Homo sapiens: one gene and its partner. The protein of the gene in region 1 purifies or fractionates together with the protein of each later gene. This does not show direct contact. Each region holds a gene or a part of one and is shown on either strand. Other genes may lie near its edges.

Region 1 (2,689 bases):
CATTACTACAGATTTGGGGATTTGAGGCATTTGTCCAACAGGCTTCTGAGCCTTGAATCTGTTTCCCTTTTCCACTCCCCATCAAGAGATCTGCTTGCTCAGCTAGTTCCCATCAGCTCTGGTTCTGCGGTTCTGGTCCAGGCTGAGTGGCCTTGGAGTTAGGTAAGAGGTGGTGGGAAGGGAGGGATGGAGGAGAGCTGAGAGCTATGGCCCGTTATGTGCCAGGGTCAAGCCTGTCACCCAGGCTGGAGTGCATTGGTGCGATCTTGGCTCACTGCAACCTCCGCTTCCTGGGTTCAAGCAATTCTCTGCCTCAGCCTACCAAGTAGCTGGGATTACAGGTGCCCGCCACCATGACCAGCTAATTTTTGTATTTTTAGTAGAGATGGGTTTTCACCATGTTGGCCAGGCTGGTCTCCAACTCTTGACCTCAGGTGATCCACTCGTCTCGGCCTTCCAAAGTGCTGGGATTACAGGTGTGAGCCGGATGTTTTTGAATACCTTATCTGGGCATTCAATCCTGGTAAGATTGTGCACAGCACATCTGAGTGTCATGTAGCCTGATCTGCAGCAGGGCTGGAGATGCCATGGGTTAGGGCACAGTGAGATTTTGCTAAGATACCAGATGGAGAACCTTGGACTTTCTGCTTTAAGGGGAATGATTAGAGCCTAGTCTCGCCTTTGATTTTCTTGTGCACTGCCACTCCCCATTCCACTTTCATCCAGGTTTTACTGAGACATTGGGTGAGTGTGTTCAGAGCCCCTTTGTTCTGCTGGAGGTCCCTTCTGTGTCTCTATACCCAGACAAGCCAAGAGCCTCCCTGTGGAAAAGGAGACTGTTTGTGCAGTCAAGGAGTGACAGGGCCTGGTGTGAGGGGTGGTGGGGCAGAAGAAGAAGAGAATTTGGCAGAAAGAGGCCAGAACTGGAGAGAGACAGAACCAGGCTACATTGAAGTTCTATTCCCCTTACTAGGTATTTAAATGTAAGGAAGTTGCTGAACTTCTGTTTCCCACATGACAAATGGTGATAATAGATTCAGCCTTGCAGAGTAGTCGAGTGGGTTTTCTAAGCTTACGTTGTAATTTCTCTTGGGTACAGAGCACCCAGCACCGTGTAGAATCTTCATAAGTGTTAGCTGTTACTGTGGTACAACATTACTTAAAGGAAGTTGGAAGAGTTAACTCCGCAGATCTGGGGACCCTAAGAAGCTGTGTGATGCCTCAGCACTTGAGCCCACATGGAAAGGCTGTGGCCAGGGCCCTGACCTGCTGTGTCTGCAGTGGGGTTGTGCCAGCCCTCATGGGCAGCTGACCTTGAGTTCTGGCCTTATTTTCCCCCCTCTCAGGGCTTGGAGAAGATCTCTGCCTACATGAAGTCCAGCCGCTTCCTCCCAAGACCTGTGTTCACAAAGATGGCTGTCTGGGGCAACAAGTAGGGCCTTGAAGGCCAGGAGGTGGGAGTGAGGAGCCCATACTCAGCCTGCTGCCCAGGCTGTGCAGCGCAGCTGGACTCTGCATCCCAGCACCTGCCTCCTCGTTCCTTTCTCCTGTTTATTCCCATCTTTACTCCCAAGACTTCATTGTCCCTCTTCACTCCCCCTAAACCCCTGTCCCATGCAGGCCCTTTGAAGCCTCAGCTACCCACTATCCTTCGTGAACATCCCCTCCCATCATTACCCTTCCCTGCACTAAAGCCAGCCTGACCTTCCTTCCTGTTAGTGGTTGTGTCTGCTTTAAAGGGCCTGCCTGGCCCCTCGCCTGTGGAGCTCAGCCCCGAGCTGTCCCCGTGTTGCATGAAGGAGCAGCATTGACTGGTTTACAGGCCCTGCTCCTGCAGCATGGTCCCTGCCTTAGGCCTACCTGATGGAAGTAAAGCCTCAACCACATTTGCTGTGTGTCTTGTCTTATTTGCTCCTGGCCATCTACCCAGACTGTCTGTCTGTCTGTCACTGCCTCTTCCAAGGGACTGGCTGGTGATCCTGGCAGTGGCTGGGTTCTAAAGGATTCTGCTGGGCATAGTAAGGCGCTTGAGAATTCTTGCTCCCATTCCTGAGAGACTCAGAGCAGGAAGCCCCATGAGGCACTGTGGAAAGGATGTCTCTTTCTTGGCCTGGATCTCCCATTCATTCATCCAGCCGTATTGAGTACTTTCCATAATTGCACAGAGCTTGTGTCTCATTGAATAGGACCCCAAGGGGGTGGAATCTCCATCAGAGAGAACCAGGGTCCCTTTTACCTTCTCCACTATATGACTGCATCACTTCTGTTAGGTCTCCAGGACCCAATCTCTATTGTTTTTCTCAGATGGCTTCCAGGTACCCTCTCCAGGCTTGCTGCACAGCTGTCATCAGGACGTTCTCTCTGGGTTTACTTCCTCTCTTTCCTGGGTACCTGTGAGAGAAATGTCTTTAGTCCTTGCATAACTGAAAGTGCCTTTACATGCTTACTGAATACTCTGGCTGAGGATTTAGTCTGTTCTCACGCTGCTAATAGAGACATACCCGAGACTGGGTAATTGATAAAGGAAAGAGGTTTAAAGGACTCACAGTTCCACAGGGCCTGGGAGGCCTCATAACCATGGCAGAAGGCGAATGAGGACCAAAGTAATGTCTTACATGGCAGCAGGCAAGAGGGCGTGTGCAGGGGAACTCCCACTTATAAAACCATCAGATCTTGTGAGACTTATTCA
Region 2 (3,824 bases), on another chromosome or scaffold:
CAGATGTGGTTTCACTTCTGGCTCTACTGCTTTTGAGATGTGACTTTGGGCAAGTTAGCCTGACTGAAGCTCTAGAGAGAATTAGGAACAGTAGCATCCACCCTATGAAATTGAGAATTAAATCAAGTAATACGCACAGTCTCTGGAACAAAGTAGGAACTCAGGCATTCTCTGTCCTTGTTTTGTAACCATAGAACCTACCTGGACTTTTCCACACGTACAAGTATTTGTTTGCCTGCTCTGGGCAGAGCCATGGTATGATCAACCTTCAATCAAATCATGGACCTGCTTACTCTGTGGCCCCAGATCTGGTGCTGACCTTGCCTGCTGCTGTTGGGCCCCTTTACAAAATATCTGACCTGGGATACTGGAGGGGAGGTAGCTACATATGCCTCTGCTCACTCCTGGGAGTAGTGTCAAAGATGGCATGTCCTATCATTTCCAGGCTGTGGCTTAAGATATAGCATCTTAGCATGACCAGGGACTCAAGATCAACCCACTCCAGGAATATAACAGACATGAAATATACTAAAAGGGTACATTCTGTACAGGGTGAGCTTCTTAAGTCTTCATAAAAGATGTCTGTGTTAGTACTTCCTCAATAGCTACAATTACTCAGTTACTCCCTCTGCATTCTAAGTAATCACTACTTAAAGCAATCACTGAGCTCAACAAATTGCCAAGAGTTTCATCAGAGACTGCAGAAAAGCTGCACTCTGATACCTGTATCTCTGACCTACTTCTGCAGGCTTACCAGAGTGATTTGACTATATTTAGTTTCAGTTATTTAACTTACATCAAGTTCTTCTTTTGACTCTAACAGCCTTTCGTGGTCTGCACAATCCACCAGAAATACAATGCCATTGATAGCAGGAAGGTAGTTTTTCCACACTCTTCGAGCTAACAAAAACAATCAGGGGTTAGAGTTTACTTGTTGGTCAAACCCAGCAGATGGTTTAAGCAAAGAGTCCAACCAGATATCAAGTGCGGTAATCCCTTAGCTGCTGGTACTTCACAATATATTCAAGTTAATCTTTTACCCAGTGGTGCCAAATTCTTCTGAGAATAACTAAGAGGGAATTTCAGGCTTTCCTTGACTGTGGGCAAGTCAAATACTTTAGTCTCTTCCAATTATCATATGTAAGGAGTAGAATATTTAAAATAAAAATAAAAATAAAAAAAAATACACGTTAAGTTCATTGGAGGACTGCTACTAGATCTAAAATATAAGCAGTAAAAAAACTACATATATGTGATTATATATACATAAAATGTGTGTATTTATATTACATATATATGCAGTGTTCATTTTTTGACATTTCTAGTTATCAGATTTTTTTTGCCAGTGATAAATTTGGAATGAGTGACAGAAGGAAATTAATATCAGGTACAAGCTTGTTAAAATAATAAGGCCGGGTGTGGTGGCTCACACTTGTAATCCCAGCACTTTGGAAGGCCAAGGCAGGTGGATTGCTTGAGCTCAGGAGTTCAAGACCAGCCTGGACAACATAGTGAAACCTCATCTCTACAAAAAAACACAAAAAATTAGCCAAGCCGGACACAGTGGCTCATGCCTGTAATCCCAGCACTTTGGGAGGCTGAGGCAGGTGGATCACCTGAGGTCAGGAGTTGGAGACCAACCTGGCCAACATAGTGAAACCCTGTGTCTCTACTAAAAATACAAAAATTAGCCAGGCTTGGAGAATCACCTGAACCCGGGAGGTGGAGGTGGCAGTGAGCCGAGATCATGCCACTGCACTCCAGCCTGGGTGACAGAGAGAGACTCCGTCTCAAAAAAAAAAAAAAAAAAAAAAAAAAATTAGAAAGTGTGGTGGTGTGTGCCTGCCCAGCTACTTGGGAGGCTGAGGTGGGAGGATGGAGCCCAGGAGGCAGAGGCTGCAGTAAGCCAAGATCATGCCACTGCACTCCAGCCTGGGAGACAGAACCAGACTCTGTTTCAAAAAAAATAATTAAAAAAAAACCAAAACAAAATTGTTTTACTCAGAAAAGAAGCTCAAATGTTAATAATTAACTGAAGTCTATGAAATCATAAGAGTAATTTTTTCCATAACATAACTTTCTTCACTGACTTGAGTTTTATGACATACCTTTTTTTTTTTTTTTTAAAGAGACAGGGTCTTGCTCTGTCATCCAGGCTAGTTCACTGCAACCTCAGACTCTTGAGCTCAAGTCATAGTCCCATCTCAGCCTCCTGAGTAGGTAGGACTATCAGTGTCTATCACTATGCCCCATTAATTGTTAAATTCTGTGTAGAGACAGGGTCTTGCTATGTTGCAAGGCTGGTCTTGAACTCCTGGCTTCAAGTGATCCTCCCAACCTCAGCCTCTCAAAGCACTGGGATTATAGGCCTGAGACCCCACACCCAGCCATTATGACATATCTTGAAACAACATAGAAATGAAGTCTCAGACAAATTCCATTAGATTCCAATTCTAATCATCGTATTCCAGAAATTATTTTGTGTATATGCCAGACAATTACATGTCTCAAATGTGCTTTCACTAGCCAGAACCATTTACAATCTTTTCAACTATATGTCGCATCAGGTTTTTAGAATGCCCACCAATTCGGTAATATTGGTTAGTTATGACTTACTATGAGGTAGATGTTGCCAAGTACTTTTGGGGATATAAAAAATGAACAGGCCAGGTGTGGTGGCTCACACCTGTAATCCCAGCACTTTGGGAAATTGAGGTAGGAGGATTGCTTGAGGCCAGGACTTCAAAATCAGCCTGGGCAAGATTGTGAGACCCCATCTCTACAAAAAAAATTTTTTTTAATTAAAACAAAACAAAAAACAGGATTTTAGTCCCCGCAAGTTTAATATAAGAGATAAGGCAGTCTTTCCAAACTTGTTGTAGACATGTACACAAATATACTAAGTGCTATGAAGTATAGCTGAGAGCACTCCAACTGAGAATGGCTTCCCAAGGGAGGTAGCAGGGCATACGCTGGGGCCTAAAGGGGTTACTCATGTGCGGATGGGGATGGCATGAACAAAAGCACAGAGGAAAACACCAAGAAGGTCTGATTTGGTTGAAGCAAAAAGAACGGGAAGGGGAATAGAGGGAAATAAAAGAAAAGTAGGCCAGATGTGGTGGCTCACACCTATAATCCCAACTTTTGGGAGACTGAGATGAGAGGATTGCTTGAGCCCAGGAGTTGGAGACAAGCCTGGGCAACATAGTGAGTGAGACCCTGTCTCTATAAGATAATTTTTAAAAGCCCAGAAAAGTAAACTGGGACCAGATCATAGAGATCCTGAATGCCAGGTTAATGAGTTTGGCCTTTATTTTGTAAGTAATGAGTTAGCCACTGAAGGTTTTTTTGTTTTGTTTTGTTTTGTTTTTGTTTTACAGAGCAGTAACATGTTCAAAACATGATTATGACAGTGAGAGGTAGATTGAAGTAGAGAGAATGGAAGTTAATTTTACTCATACACTTTACCACCAAAAGCAATTCTCATTTGAATTGGCCAGAAGTATCATGAAAATCACCCTTTGCTTTTAAAGTATTTATCGGGGAGTAATAATCCCTAAATTTTAAATCTACTCTGGCCTTGCGTGACTAGAATGAGATTTCATGCACTAGAACTAATGGCCACATTTTTGTTAAGTTAAAATAAAACAAAGTGACTGTAAGAGTAAGAGAATCTTACCTTGAACGTGGCGAAATCCCATCTCTACTAAGAATACAAAAATCAGCTGGGCGCGGTGGCACATGCCTGTAATCCCAGCTATTGGGGAGGCTGAGGCATGAGGATTGCTTGAACCCAGGAGGCAGAGGTTGCAGTGAGCTGAGAT

The links.
Region 2: the proteins of GSTM2 (region 1) and SAR1B purify together in Homo sapiens (co-immunoprecipitation; one large-scale study listed by IntAct). This does not show direct contact.

The regions. Positions count from the first base shown.
Region 1 is NC_000001.11:109,673,401-109,676,089, forward strand, and holds the end of GSTM2 (glutathione S-transferase Mu 2), read left to right. Parts: intron 1-1,346; coding exon 1,347-1,436; 3' UTR 1,437-1,886; downstream 1,887-2,689. UniProt on the Homo sapiens protein: Conjugation of reduced glutathione to a wide number of exogenous and endogenous hydrophobic electrophiles. Participates in the formation of novel hepoxilin regioisomers.
Region 2 is NC_000005.10:134,608,775-134,612,598, forward strand, and holds part of SAR1B (small COPII coat GTPase SAR1B), read right to left. Parts: intron 901-3,824; coding exon 797-900; intron 1-796. UniProt on the Homo sapiens protein: Small GTPase that cycles between an active GTP-bound and an inactive GDP-bound state and mainly functions in vesicle-mediated endoplasmic reticulum (ER) to Golgi transport.